Linked DNA regions of Homo sapiens: all the other regions are linked to region 3. Evidence: fine-mapped expression QTL. Tissue or cell type: whole blood. Region 3 holds a variant in brackets; each other region holds the start of a gene. All regions are shown on one strand. Distances are between the middles of the regions.

Evidence for each region. PIP is the estimated chance that this variant, and not a neighbour inherited with it, causes the effect.
Region 1: it holds the start of IFT56, and the variant in region 3 is fine-mapped to the expression of IFT56 in whole blood (INTERVAL, PIP above 0.99).
Region 2: it holds the start of ZC3HAV1, and the variant in region 3 is fine-mapped to the expression of ZC3HAV1 in whole blood (INTERVAL, PIP 0.91).

Annotation. Positions count from the first base shown.
Region 1 is chr7:139,131,598-139,136,748 of GRCh38, forward strand. IFT56 (intraflagellar transport 56) reads left to right here and starts at 2,181. Exons shown (of 18, transcript NM_024926.4): 1 at 2,181-2,263; 2 at 3,058-3,195. The coding sequence starts at 2,261. RefSeq lists enhancers at 2,006-2,300, 2,018-2,197.
Region 2 is chr7:139,106,627-139,111,777 of GRCh38, forward strand. It overlaps ZC3HAV1 (zinc finger CCCH-type containing, antiviral 1), which reads right to left and starts at 3,094. Exons shown (of 13, transcript NM_020119.4): 1 at 2,398-3,094. The coding sequence starts at 2,705. RefSeq lists enhancers at 1,993-2,122, 2,703-2,802, 2,747-3,250, 3,043-3,202.
Region 3 is chr7:139,187,637-139,192,763 of GRCh38, forward strand. It overlaps IFT56 (intraflagellar transport 56), which reads left to right. Exons shown (of 18, transcript NM_024926.4): 18 at 1,685-4,350. The coding sequence ends at 1,796. Among named protein-coding and RNA genes, the nearest start is that of UBN2, 41 kb to the right of the region's middle. The variant C/G (reference allele first, on the strand shown) is at 2,034.

The DNA.
Region 1 (5,151 bases), 56 kb before region 3:
AATGAGTAGACTAACTTCATAGAAAGTTTCACTTCTTTTAGCTTCTCATGTCACCATCTCTAGATGTAACAAGCTAAATATTGCAACTCTTCTTCCTTCACTTTCAGATGAAACACCACACAATTGCATAACTCTAACTGATAAACTTGTTTTCTCCTAGGACTGATCTGCAAGAGACTTTTCTTACTTAGGCTAATGTTGTTTGGTTTACAGACGCATGTTATTTAAAGGATGAATCTGGAACTTACTGTAAAGGTTTACGCAATAGTGTCTTTAACAGAAGAAATAGAAAGTGCTTACCTTCCAGAAGCCACTTAGATTCACTTCTGTCTTTGTACCACAACTGTGTATTGAAGATGTCATTTGCCATGTACAGGCCCTAACCAATTACACACAAAAGGCCCTAAATAACAGCCACATGAATGTCTCATTATTAAATAATGAAGTTACTGTCATGAGAAGACTGTATTACAAAACTGTATGGTCTTAGACATACTCACTGCAGCCCAAGGAGGAATCTGTGCTATGACAGAAACTGAATGCTGTGTTTATATCCCAGATGAATCAAATAACGTCACCAAATTAATAACTGATTTGAAAAACTCTAATAATTAACCTTTCGGATCCAAAACCCTCTCTAAGCTACTGGTTAAGTAATTGATTTGGATCTTGGGGAACTTGGTGGCAAAAGCTGTTATGTATTTTAGGAATTATCATAGTTTGTGTTTTGTCTTGCCTTTGTCTGCAGAGCTGTTATGGTATTTATCTGCAATTGGGTCAACACACAGCTGAGAAAATGTGTAGAACAAAGACTACTCAGAGAATTGTTTGATTGAAGAGGCAGCCGTGTAGCCTGAATCAGGTTCCAGAACTACTTTCTCTTGTTGCTTTATAATTCGGACTTGGTCCTTTCCAATTTCCCCTCCTCCCTGGGATGTGACTGCCAGGAAGGGGCCTTCCTAGTGACATGAGGTTTGATCAAATACACGGCCTGAGAATATAATTCTTCTATAATGCTTTCTCTGAAAGCTTTTGAAGAAAAGGGGAAAATGTGAAAAGAAAATTTCAGCACTTTCCAAACGTACTATGCCAAGGGGAAAAGTTAAGCCCTGTAAACTAAATCACAGAACATGGCTGTTTTTCTTCTCTGGTGCATGACTGTTGCTTCCTGATCTTTGTGTTGATGTTATATATTAACCAGATTTTTTATTCTTTATTCAGACTAAATGACGTTGGAGATAGAGACCCTTGTGATTGTTACCTCTTTACAATAGAATATTAAACAACCCCCTTACAGTGTAATCAATAGTAGTGAATTGAATCTTCTGTGTACGTTAGCCTCATCTAGAAAATGCTGTAATTACGTACAGCACTCCTGTTTTTGGTGATATAAATGACCCTCACCTTTCCCTGCATCAGGGAGCACTGATCACCATTCTTTGCTGTCAGTGGTTCCCGGGATAGCCGCCCTCACACTTTGCACTTGAATAAACTCTTTCAACTGGATCCCTGAGCTTTTTGGTTATTTTAGGCTGACATTAGTTAACTAACAAGATGTTAGTTCTTCAGTCTGTTAATTCTGAGGGGTTGACCAGAGGTCCTGTAAGGTCCCTTCCAACTCTAACATTCCACGATTTCGTGAATTTAAAGACTGTGGTTGCCCCTGTATTAACTGGGTTCAGGAGTAAGATAGATAAATTAAGTCATCCAATCGACAAATATTTATTACAGTTCTCTATTGTGTGTAGGTGTATCTGTGGAAATAGGAAACTGTATTTTGGTGCACTCCTGCTTCCAAATCACAGAACTACAACTCCTTCAGCAGAAATTTTCTAAGCTTCCCGCACCAGCCAGAGACCAAGATTCTGCGGTGCACATAGTCAAGGGTTGCTATGGAGTCCAACACGGCCCCAAACAGAAGTGGTCCCTGAAAATTTCTTTCCCAGAAAACTTGCATTTGAAAAACAATGCCATTCCAATTCGCCTTTTCCTAAAGTAAACTCATAAATAGAGACAACCAAACTTTCGCTCTCAGCCCAGAGAACGACGCTCTCCTCCCAAGAGGAACCTCGGCTCTTCCGCGGCAGAAGCTGCACGGAACCAAGAAGCCGCGGGCGCTGGTTCTCCAACGAGCTTTTCTCCCGTTCGTACCAGCGTCCAGGCGGGGTTACCGTGGAGACAGAACGTGCTGTGTGGATGCGGCGAAACGCTGAGGCGCGGCCTTCGCTGTGTGGTGGGGACTCACAAGACCGACGTCAAGATGGTTAGTGGCTCTGAATAGTAAGGGAGTACTTTGAGTAGGTCCTGAGGCTGGCGATTAGAGGTTCCCAGCACACTTCTGTGTGAAGTCTAGGTGTGTCCGCAGAGAGTAATCCCCAGCTCTCCCTGTGTTCCCACGGGGGACAGGGATGCAACTGTAAATACCTCGGTGCTTTCTTCCCTCCTGCTTTTCCGTTTACTCACATTTAAACCACTCGTGGGATGGGAAGCAGAGGAAGGGAAAGCTGAGATGACAGAAGCAATGCGAAAGCATCTCTAGCCAGAGAAGATAAAAGTTGGGAGTAGCTGTTTGGTCCTTCCTAAGTATTGGCTGATGGCTCTTCTAGTAGAATACCTGTTACAAAACGAGTTTGAATAGGCTTCCCTGGGGTTCGTTGTTAAGGATTTGACTTATAATTTTTTTTTTTTTTTTGAGATGGAGGCTCGCTTTGTCGCCCAGGTTGGAGTGCAGTGGCGCGATCTTGGCTCACTGCAACCTCTGCCTCTAGGTTCAAGCGTTTCTTCTGCCTCAGCCTCCCGAGTAGCTGGGACTACAGGCGCATGCCACCACGCCCGGCTAATTTTTGTATTTTTAGTAGAGATGCGGTGTCACCATATTGACCAGGCTGGTCTCCAACTCCTGACCTCGTGATCCGCCGCCTTCGCCTCTCAAAGTGCTGGGATTACAGGCATGAGCCACTGTGCCCGGCCTTGACTTATAAATTACAGAGCTGTCACTCTCAGTTTAAATCTGATAATCAGAATTGGACCATACAGCTGTCTTTGTTTCTTTTACAGATGCTTTCAAGGGCCAAACCTGCTGTAGGCAGAGGCGTACAGCACACTGACAAAAGAAAGAAGAAAGGTAGGAAGATTCCAAAACTAGAGGAGCTACTTTCAAAAAGAGATTTCACTGGAGCTATTACCCTGTTGGAGGTAATGCCCAAAGAACGTTGCTTCTTAGTGTATGAATACCAGACTGTAGATGAATGCTTGGGTGAATGCTGTTTGCTATGCTCTTGAAATAGGTGGGTGCATTCTGGGGCTTCCTGTACAAATCCCCTGTAAATCTAGTCAGGCACAGATTCCAGATTCCAAGTTAGCTATAAACCTGATAAAAAACGAACTAAAAAACTAAACTTGGCCGGGCGCGGTGGCTCATGCCTGTAATTCCAGCACTTCGGGAGGCCGAGACGGGCAGATCACAAGGTCAAGAGATCGAGACCATCCTGGCCAACATGGTGAAACCCCGTCTCTATTGAAAATACAAAAATTAGCTGGGCATGGTGGCACGTGTCTGTAGTCCCAGCTACTCGGGAGGCTGAGGCTGGAGAATCGCTTGAACCCGGGAGGCGGAGGTTGCAGTGAGCCAAGATCATGCCACTGCACTCCAGCCTGGCTACAAGGCGAGACTCCGTCTCAAAAAAAAAAAAAAAAAAAAACAAAACAAAACTTATTTCTTGAGGGCCACTTTTGAGTATGTCTAGTTCACCAACAGTGATTACAATCTAAAAATATGAAGGGACCTTTTATACAATGTCATTTCACACATTGCTTATCCCAACCCTTGACCAATGTATGATTTTTTCCTATTATGTGTTCTAAAATTTTGATCAAACTTAAATAATTCTAACATGCTTACGGTTGAAAATATAGCCCCAGAAAATATTTCAAATCTCCATGGCAGTAGTTCTCACCTTTTAATATACATTGGAATTACCTAGGGTACTTAATAAGATATCGATTCCTGGGCTCCTGCTGTAAGTCTGCAGAGGTGCTCAGGAATCTGCATTTTAAGGTGAGTAGTCTAAGTGCTTCTGATGGAGATGGTCCCAGGAGACTGTGCTTTAAAAAACTGCTTTGTGGGAAACACATGTTATAGGAGGGTGAAGGGTTGCACCAAAGAATGAAGAGTTCTGACAGCATGGTCTGGTTGTGTTGTACCACACTCATTTCTCTTAAAATGCTACTCTGTCCATATTACTCTGAATCTACCCTTAATAATTGTTATAATTAGGTTTACATATATTTCTCCATCTTCCACAAATAGTTCACTTTCTTTTTTTTTTCTTTTTTCTTTTTTTGAGTTGGAGTTTCACTCTTGTCACCCAGGCTAGAGTGCAATGGCGCAATCTCAGCTCACTGCAACCTGCACCTCCCTGGTTCAAGCAATTCTCCTGCCTCAGCCTCCTGAGTAGCTGGGATTAGAAGTGCCTGCCACCATACCTGGCTAATATTTTGTATTTTTAGTAGAGATGGGGTTTCACCATGTTGGCCAGGCTGGTCTCCAACTCCTGGCCTCAGGTGATCCACCTGCCTCGGCCTCCCAAAGTGCTGGGATTACAGGTGTGGGCCACCGCGCCCGGCCTAGTTTGCCTTCTTACTAAGTACTCTGGTGTTGAGCGTGTTTTTTAGCTTTTTGGGCATCAGCTTTCTCATCTTTACAGTGGGGGAGTTGGCATGGAAGAACCTTCTAGTTCTGTGAATCAGTGGACTGAGTGCTATGTATATATCTATTTTCATCAGTCTGTTTTCCTCTTTTTTCTCTAAGACAATGACCACATTTTCCTTGTTGCATAACACCAGGTTGCCTTTATTTTATTTTATTTTTGAGACAGGGTCTCATTCTGTCACCCAGCCTGGAATGCAGTGGCGTGATGGTGGCTCACTGCAGCCTCAACCTCCCAGGGCTCACACGAGTCTCCCACCTCAGCCTCCCAAGTAGCTGAGACTACAGGCACGTGCCACTATACCTGGCTAATTTTCGTTTGATTGGCTATTTGTGTGTGTGTGTGGAGACAGGGGTCTCACCATGTTGCCCAGGCTGGTCTTGAACTCCTGGGCTCAAGGGATCCTCCTGCTTCTGGCCTCCCAAAATGCTGGGATTACAGG
Region 2 (5,151 bases), 81 kb before region 3:
TTTTAAAAGGATTATGTCTATGTATCCTTTTCCCTGAAAATAAAAGTTGGATTTATAAGACAATCAGGGAAATTTGAATACCAACTGGACAATAGATGATATTAAAATTGTAATTTTTTTTACAAAAATGTGATCATTGTACTGTATTATGTTAATAAAACATAGTTCTTATGTTTTAGAGATACTAAAGTACTTAGTAATCAAATGGTTGCTGAGATTTGCTTTAAAATAACACATTGGAGTTGGGGACACATGGGGAATAGGGAGAATAAATGAAACAAAACTGGCCATATTTTCAAAACTGTTGAAATGATGGGTACAAGGGGCTTCATCATTTTTTTCTCTCTACTTTTGAGTATGTTGAAAATATCCATAGTAAGAAATAAAAAAATAAAAAGCATATGTATTTCATACTAAAAATCAACACTAGTTGGTGAAGAATTTGTCATAATAGAAAAGATAAGAACAGAAAAAACATAACAAAGCCTTCCAACCATGTTATTTGGTGTAGTGCTAGAACATGCTAGAATGTTCCTTCCTTTTCTATCCTCCACCCTCTGCTCTCTTCTCCTTCTCAGAGATTTCTTCAGTGACCAGCAATGACTTAGATGATTTCCTCGATACCCATAACTCCCAGCAACTCAGAAACAACCTTCAAATTGTTGCCCCACAACATATTAAAGAAAATTTTAAATAAAGGAACACATTCAAGCACTTTTTAAAAACGTTAGAGTGAGCTGAAAGGGTTTTTGCTCTAAAGAAATTTTTAAAAAAATACATTGCGTCCTCTACCTCATCCATCTAAAACACTTACCTTTGTGTGTTTTATTACACGTATATTGGGGGTGAGTGACTGGAGTTTTTGTTAGGTGCGTGATCAAAAGTTTGCCGACTGGTCGGACTTGGTGGCTTATGCCTGTAATCCCAGCACTTTGGGAGGCTGAGACAAGTGGATCACCTGAGGTCAGGAGTTCGAGACCAGCCTGGCCAACATGGTGAAACCCTGTCTCTACTAAAAATACAAAAATTGGCCGGGTGCGATGGTGCATGCCTGTAATCCCAGCTACTCGGGAGGCTGAGGCAGGAGAATCGCTTGAACCTGGGAGGTGGAGGTTGCAGTGAACCGAGGTGGAGCCACTGCACTCCAGCCTAAAAAGTTTGCTGACAACCATTTTAAACCCTGGGACACAAGTCAAAGTGTTTAAGAATGGGCCAAGTGTAAAAAGTACTGTATCGAGAAAAGTAATTGAGCAGAGCACATAGTGACAGAAAGGGTGGGAGGAAAGACTGGCCATTCATTAATTCAACAAGGCGTTCATTCAGTTCATTCAGAAATTAGATGGGAAGGCAGAATCCGCCAAGAAGGGAAAGAGACTTCACAAAAAGGACTTGGTGATGACAGATTGTGAGGAGGATTAAAACCCTGCCTGGGGGAAAAGATGAGTTTGACTCCATGGACAGGACACACGCGGGAGAGGAAGGGCTTGGGATCAAGGGAAAGGCCTGGGCAGCGAATGTGGACCTGGAAGCCATCTTTTTAGATGTGCAGCTGTCCTCGAGGGAGCAAGCTCTCTTAGGGAGAAACTGGGAAGAAAATCACTCAAGAGTCTTAACCCAAACCTTGCAGCGCATCTGCATTTAGACGAAAAAAAAAAAAGGCAAACGGAAACAACAGAAGCAGTGGCCCGAGACGTGAGCCACACTGCTTCAAAGGGATTTAAGAGAGTTGTCCCAAGGCAGGCGGTCAACTGCGCGCGCCACCGTAGAGAGACCACCCGGAGGGAAGGCCCGCGGCTGCTACAACTTCAGGAACCTGGAAAAGGGCCACCCCTGCTACGCGCCAGGCATCAGAAAAGCGGTGATGAGGGGCATGGGGGTGACCGGGAAGGGAGGGACAAGCAGAGAGACCTGCGGCTCGCTCCGGCGGAGACGGACCGGGGGCCCAGGGCGGCTGGGTTACTGGCTCCGCCACGTCTAGGGAAGGAGGTAGTAGGGAGGGAAAGACTCAAGATACCAAAGACGGGAGGCTCTTTCCTTCCTTCCCAAACCTGCCTACCGCTTCTCTAGGCCCTGGCTGGCTCCAGAGCACTTTATTCTTCTGATTCGTGCGGGCGGGCGGGGAAAGGGGTGGAGGTTGAGCCTGGTCTCCTCCAGGCACTAGCATTTTAGCCATTCTCGAGAAAATGTCTGGAGGTGCCGGAAGGAAGGGAACTGCAAAGGTAGAAGCGCGGGCCCTGCAGAGGCTCCCAGAGGGGAGCAGAGAAGGGAGTGGCTGGAGGCGGAGGCTGTCAGGTGCGGGGTCCCGGCGAAGCCGTGCCCCTCCCAGAACATTGCCCGCCTGGACAGTCCACCCCGACCACGGCTGCGGACAGCGCCCCTCCCTCCGGGTGCACTCACCGCTCGGACTGCGAATAGTTGCACCGGCCCAGCAAGTTGAGTTTGCAGAGATGCAGGTTATCGCAGGGTCTCTGGCAGTACTTGCGACGGCAGACCCGGGCTCGAGTGGTGGCCACCACCGATCGGGTGATCCCGGCCTCGCCGCCGGTCTCCAACACCACAAAGCGGTCGGGCCCGGCCACCTGCAGCACCTCACAGAGCTGCGGCTCAGACAGCGCGATCTCCTGGAGCAGCGCGTCCAGGGCCATGCGGCCCCCGTGGGCGCACAGGATTTTGGTGATGAAGCAGCACACCTCCGGGTCCGCCATGGCGCGCTGGCTGTGCTGGCTCTGCCGCGGCGCGGGACTCGGTTCCGCGGAAATCGGAAATCGAAACTTACAAGTGTCCAGGGGCGGGCGCGGGCGGTGCTACTGCTGGGCGCGCCCGGAGTCAGCGAGGGCGCGCTCTCCGTCGCCGTTAGCCCAGCCCAGCGATCCACTCTCGGCTCTCAGGTCAAGAGGCTAGATCTCACCGACCGGGTCCTAGTGGCAGGTTTACAGCCGGCCGCAAGGGCAACTGGGTGGAAAGAAAGAGAACGCGCGGGCAAATCTGCTGGTGACCGCCTGGGGTGGCCCCCTCTCGGTTCTAGGCTCGGCGAGGGTGAGGTTCTCCAGCCGGGCTCCGCGAGCCTTCTTTAGAAAGAAGAGAAACTAAAAGCGATCTTGGGGCTCTGGCCGGTGTTTTATAAGCCAGCCGACTGAGGCGTGTGACGCAAGTCCTGAGAGCCCTGTTGAGGAGTGCGCACCCCACCCATTCCCGGAAAGAGCAGACCCTAGCGAGCGCTTCCTGCGAGCCGTGCGCTCTGCCTCTGTTGGTAGTGAATCTTCCCAGCAACTCCACATGGTAGATATTATTATCCTCACCCTGAACTTGAGGAAGTAACTTGCACGAACACGCACTGGCATCAAGCGGAGCCCAGATGCCACCGAGTTTCCCCAAATCGCGTCCCCAGGCCCCAGATCGTGGTACCCCAGGCCCCGATGTGCAAGTTTCTCCTCCACCACCGTGCCCTCTTAAAGAACAACGATTGCCACTCTCCCTCGTTTCTGCCTTCTCACGAACTTTTGGACAAACCACTTCTTGACATGGTCTTGCTTACCTAGAATCGCTAACTCGGTGCCCTGAACCACTGCTTGTACCTCAATCACGGTGGACATGCTAAGACATATCCCAAGATTTCAGATCGGTTCCTCCCCGTAGAGATTGGGACAAGAACTTTTCCACCGTGGGGACGTACTTTGACCCCCAGAGTTGACATAAAGATTGTTTTTAAGTGAAAACATTGAGCTACAGAAGATGTAGAAAGAAATCTTAATGAAACTTCCCTTATCTGACTAAAGCAAAACCTCCCGAAAACATGGTGCCATTAAAAGCCTCTCGGAGTATTCAGCTGCCAGGAAGACAGACTGTCCCATTACCATTAGCACCAAAAAACCCAATGGGCTGGGTGCTGTGGCTCAGCCCGTAATCCCAGCGCTTTAGGAAGCCGAGGCAGTGGGAGGATTGCTTGAACCCAGGAGTTCAAGACTAGCCTGGGCAACATAGTGAGCTCTCTTCAATAATAATAATAATAATAATAATAATAATAATAATAATAATAATAAAAACAACCCGGGCATGGTGGTGTGCAGCCGCAGTCCCAGCTACTCGGGAGCCTGAGGTGGGAGGATTGCTTGAGCACGGGAGGAGGCTGCAACGAGCCGGGATTGTGCCACTGCACTCCAGCCTGGGGGATAGCGCTGAGACTTTGTCTCAAAAACACAAAACAACCCAATCAAAACTTCCAAACTCTCCTACTGAAGCCCTAAAACTTTCCTTTTTGTTAAGTTGAGGTATATAAACCTTTACTTTTGAGTTTTCTGTTACTGGAAGCTCCTGCATGCATGTGTAAATAAACTTTGTCTTTTCTCCTATTTATCTGTCTAGTGCCAGTTAATTTTTAGGCCCCCAAAGACAGGACACAAGTTGAAGAGAAAAAAGGTTTTTTTTTCCAACATCTTCAAATAAAATAGATGGGTCATTTGATCAGATAAGAAATACATCTTTTTAAAAAATAATAGATTCTGGTTGCTAACTTAGAAATTCTTCAAAATGATTAATGAGAATTCTCCTCAGTTTTGTCATTCATGGTATATAAACCCTCTTTCAGGAATAGAGTACTTTGTTATGAAAACCAGCCAAACATGGGGGCCACATAGGATCATCTTAGGATGTCTAAGAGGGACATCTTGTTCCCTCTAGTTGCTGCTTCTATAGTTGTCTTTTAATCCACTTGGCCTTATTTGTGGTCTGACAGGTTCCCAGGGACCTTTTATTATCAAATCAACTAAGTTCTAGATGTTTATTGACTATCTTCTATGTGGTATTTACATTAGTTAGTAATGTAAGGACATGCAGAAGTTTAAAAAACAGTCCCTGCACTCAAGGAGCATGTATGCGAAGACATGAAAAAATGCATGGAAATATAAGCAAATTCATGGGTAAATGCCACAATGGGAATATAGAAGATGAGAGACTGAAGAGTCTAGTTTGGCTACAGTGGTTGGGAGTACAGACATAGAATCTCCTCCAATTTGAAGCCATGAAAAATGATTTAAGGGCCAGGTGCAGTGGCTTGTGCCTGTAATCCCAACACTTTGGGAGGCCAAGGCGGGAGGATCATGACCATCCTGGGCAACATACTGTGAGATCCACCTGGGCAACATAGCGAGACCT
Region 3 (5,127 bases):
TATAATGATGTTTTAGAATGATGAAAAAAAGGTTGATATTAAATATTTCTGTCTGACCATTTTCCTCCAGAAATCTTTCATTTTGTAGAATCAGATAATTCTAAATCATATATAATAGGATCAGATCATTCTAAGTCATATATACATTAAGTACACTAACAGCCTCCAAATATAAGAGCAGGATGTATATTTGGTTCCAAATGAACAGCCATTTTTATAGGCAAAGTGTTTTTTTTTTTTACTCTTCTACTCTTTTGGGTTTTTTGTTTGTTTTTTGTTTTTTGCCTATTGGCTTTTTCTTGTGTGCTTTAGTTTAGGTCTCAAAAAATTAGGAATGGAGTAGATGTGGTTGATAACTCTTTTGTTTTCTTTCACCTTCTCATATTCTAGGAAATACTGAGACATTAGTTTACATAAAATTAATAAAATTCAGTGGTTTATACTTTTTCTTTTTTTTTTTCTTTCTTTCTTTTTTTTTTTTTTAGATAGAGTCTTGCTCTGTTGCCCAGGCTGGAGTGCAATGGTGTGATCTCAGCTCACTGCAACCTCTGCCTCCCGGGTTCAAGTGATTCTCCTGCCTCACTCTCCTGAGTAGCTGGGATTACAGGCACGTGCCACCATGCCTGGCTAATTTTTGTATTTTTAGTAGGGGCAGGGTTTCACCATGTTGGCCAGGCTGGTCTCAAACTCCTGACCTCAGGTGATCCTTCCACCTCAGCCTCCCAAAGTTCTGGGATTACAGGCATGAGCCACCATGCCCAGCCTATAGTTTCATTTGAAACAAACATTAAAACACAACTCGATTCCATTTTCTAAAAATAACTTCATGGAATGTATTTATTACTGATACATGAATAGGAAATGTGTTAATTTTGTAAGAAAATAATCTATCAAAAATTACTTCCTACCTTATAGTACTTCTAGTTCTAAGTAAAAGTTTAAAAACATTTGGTTAGGTGAAAGAGGTTGTTTGTGGGGAAAAAGAAGTAGAAAATATGAGAAGACTCTTAAGCAAATAGGTTCATAGGCAGTCGCCTACAGATTTGCTAGGGCAATAAGGAAATTTTAGCATTCATTACTTAAAATATGTTTTAATTTTAATTAAATTTAAATTACTTCAAATATAAATGCTAGGCTTAGTCCTTAATGTCCATCTCTTCCATTTTATTCATGTATTATTTTTCTTGAAAAAATCCCTTATTCCTTTGGCTTTGTAAAATTTTATGAATTTGACAATGATGCCTAGTTGAAGGTGGTTACCACCTTAAACAAGGGAGAAATCCATGAGTTAGACAAATTAAGTGACTTGCTGGTGTTAGAGCTAGAACTTGAACCCCAACTTCTGGATATACTCTTTCTAGTCATGCAGAATAAGAATAGAAATGGGAATAGTTAGGTCATCTCAGAAAGGACAAAAAGATTATCAGTATGTATATAGGTAGTATGGATAAACAAGGAACACTTGGATTGGCAAGAAAGATTTCACATAATTTCCATTTTACTATGCCACAATAAGAACATAAGGCTAGGCAGTTTGTAATTGCTTTGTGAATACACAGTGAAAGAGTCTATTACCAAAAATGCCCTACAAGACATACAGTATGAAGGACAGTTCAGAGTTTATTTTATTTTTTAATTTTCATTCTTCATTGAAACACTTTGTCTTTTCAAATCTTTTCCTCAGAGAGACCCTTCGAGAAGTGCTCCATTTACTGAGAAGCACAGGTAACACCCAAGTAGAATACATGATCCGGATCATGAAGAAATGGGCCAAAGAAAACAGAGTGTCCATCTAAAATAGCGCCAGCGTCCTAGGAACCAGCTTCTACTTTGACATAAAACTGGAAATCATTTTCACTCCAGTTTAATCTGTGATACAGGGCTCTGTTTTATTGACATTTTCCTTCCTTGCTCTTTAAGCCTCAAGGTCAGAGACTGACTTGCTGAGACTTAGTCTCCTGGCTGAACAGAGTGCCATAGTCTGTGACCCTGTATGATCCTAGTAGCAATAAGATTTTGGACTTATCTGGTGC[C/G]TTTCTTCCAAAAATGCTCAGAGTACTTTTATGCAATTTACTGACTTTAAGGAAAACAGTATAACTTTTTTTTGTTAGCATTTTATGGCATTGTCTCCTGGCTGCAATAACAAACATCTTTGATGTTCAAGAATCAGCATCATTGTATCATTTAACTTTAAGGCGTCTCTGTACGTTATCCCATTTTATTGGGGAATTCCATAAAGGGTTTTATAACGTCATCTCTGAATCTTGGGAGAATAACTAGCTATGTGTTTCTAAGAAAGGCAGTAAGCTACTTTATCAAACTGTCCAGTCATTAATAGGATAGATTTATGGGATTACTCTTTCAGTAATTAAATTGTTGATGATAATAACATGTTACAGCGCAGTAAGATGAGTATTGCAATGTTTTAAAAGGTGAGTACTATGAAAAAAATTGTAGTACCTCTAAAGGTATTCAAGAAACAATGTTTATGAATCTCACTAGTCCATTATAGTTTGGTACCATAATTATTTTAGGTAACAAAGCAGGTTAGGTTTTTGTTAATGTATCTTGCTTAACAAACATCAGTTTTTGTTGTTGTTGTTGTTGTTGTTGTTGTTGTTGTTTTTGAGACGGAGTCTCGCTCTGTCGCCCAGGCTGGAGTACAGTGGTGCGATCTCGGCTCACTGCAAGCTCCACCTCCTGGGTTCACGCCAGTCTCCTGCCTCAGCCTTCTGAGTAGCTGGGACTACAGGCACCCGCCACCGCGCCCGGCTAATTTTTTGTATTTTTAGTAGAGACGGGGTTTCACCGTGTTAGCCACAATGCTCTCCATCTCCTGACCTCGTGATCCGCCCGTCTCAGCCTCCCAAAGTGCTGGGATTACAGGCATGAGCCACCGCGCCTGGCCCAAACATCAGTTTTGAAAGTAGGGCTACAGTGATTTATATGTATTGTGGGCACTTATTAATGTAACGATAATAAAACATGAATCGTATAAAGTCCTTTGAGGGAATCTCCTAATGGCTAGGCTCTCTGTCGTAAGTCATATTCCAGCCCCAGGCTTCTGAGCTCTTATAACATACAACTGAGCATTCTTAAGCTCACAACCTATTTCCAGAAAAGAGACCCACATCTTTCTATGTTTTATACTACCTTTGTTTTTACACCATATAGTTTTTTTCTATTAGTTTAAGGTACCTAGTGTTACAGGTCTAGAAAGTGCAGAGCCATCCCTACCTAGAAGAGAATAGATGGGAAGAGAACTGAAAGAAAGAATTCCTCAAGCACTGAAGTCAGGAAAATCCCCGTAGGCACTGTATTAGTTGTTCCATTTATCCCAGCACTCCACTTGTGGATGAAGGAGTTGTATAGAAAGGAGATGAGAAAATGGCAGGAGTGGAAGCAGCCAAGAAGAGATCGATGACTGAAGATCTCCTTCACCTTCAGGACTGTCTCAAGGGGTTATTTCACCTCTACTCATGAGGATGGCCAGTTTTTCTGTCTTTTATCTTTAGACCCATATATAATCAGTTCAGAGCACAAATCAAAATAAACTGGCCTAAATAACTGAATTCTAGGAAGCAAAGCTACATCTTTTTTCATATGCCAAAGCTTCTGTTTCCTCATGTTGTTCCTACTTTTTAAATAATAAATGGCTCTCAGCATCTTAGGAACTAGATGGGTCCCATCTGGGTAGAACCTGCTATAATTTTTAGAATCACTCTTGTAATTCTTACCTCACTTAAAATATTAGGAAACACAGTAATAGAAAAGACAGGGAGAACTCGTCTGCAGGTTTTGGCAGTGAAATTTGTCTTCCAGTGAATTGCTATTATTTTCAAATTGCCTATAGTCAAAAAGCTTTTCCATTGATGGAGACTTACTTTCAAATGAGCTTGTGTTGAATTCAGCACTCTAGATTCTCTCTGACATTTTCCTGTCTTTTGGGAAAAAAAAGCAGATATTCCAAAAATGGCAGAAATCTAATTTTTGTAAACTTTTTCATCTATAGGATTGAGCCAAAAAACATACATACTATTTTAAAGAAAGGTACCATCTAATTCTTTTATTAAAGATAGCTACTTCTGAAATGTCTTAACAGAGTTTCAAGATTGCAAAGTAGTATTGCATAGCTGGTTTTCTTACATGTGATGATGGAGGAGAGAGGAAGACCCAGACTTAGGCATGTAGTGAAATATGTACAGTTTCTGGCATCAGTGTACTATTTATAGTCTATAGCATACATTACTTGCAAATGGGAAAAGTATTTTATAATTATTTTTGTACCTCAAAATAATTATTATATTCTACTGTATTATATTCAAATTAAAGTTTATTATTTGATTCTTAGTATGATATTCTGTTGAGTGTGATGAGGGTGGGACCTAAGTATGTCATGTGCCTTCTACCCTTTCTTTCCTAGCCCTAGAATGAAAGGAGAGAAAGTTTTGGGCCCCATAAGTTACTCTTTAGAAGAGAGAAAAGTACATATTCCCCAAGAAGCCCTTTCCACTAAGAGGCTGGTAGTTCCTGCTGAATCATACTAGGCTTGGCTCTTTGCTGAATTACAGCCCATTCAGAAGTTATATGACCAGTGCATAGTGTAGTACCTCACACATAGAAAGCTCTCACATACTTGTTGACTGAATAATTAAACATACAGTAACTGGTAGGGCAAGTGACTTGTGAAGTCTAACCTCATATATTCAGTTCCCATTGAATTATTATTTTATTGTGTGCTAAGCATATGCCAGGTACTTGGGCTGCAAAGATAAATAATGCACAGGCCTGACTCTCAAGGAACTCTAACAGAAGTATACACAACTAAACACAACAACGTGATTGATATCATCAGTGGGAATAAAGTATTGAGCAATAAAAGAAGGCAATGGAATGTTTGTATCCGTGTAAATGAGATGCCCCCTGCCTCATTTGGGAGAAGCAATCAGAATGGATCCCAAAGCTCAACAGCTAGCAAGATGCCCACAGCTCTGCCATGTGTGCCACACACATCACATGCATCCAAGTAGACGGAAGCCAAGGGACTGCTTTCCTCCTCTGTGGCTTAGTGCACTTTCAGAAAGGTGCTAGCAAACAGGCATGATATCACAATAGTTACATCTACTT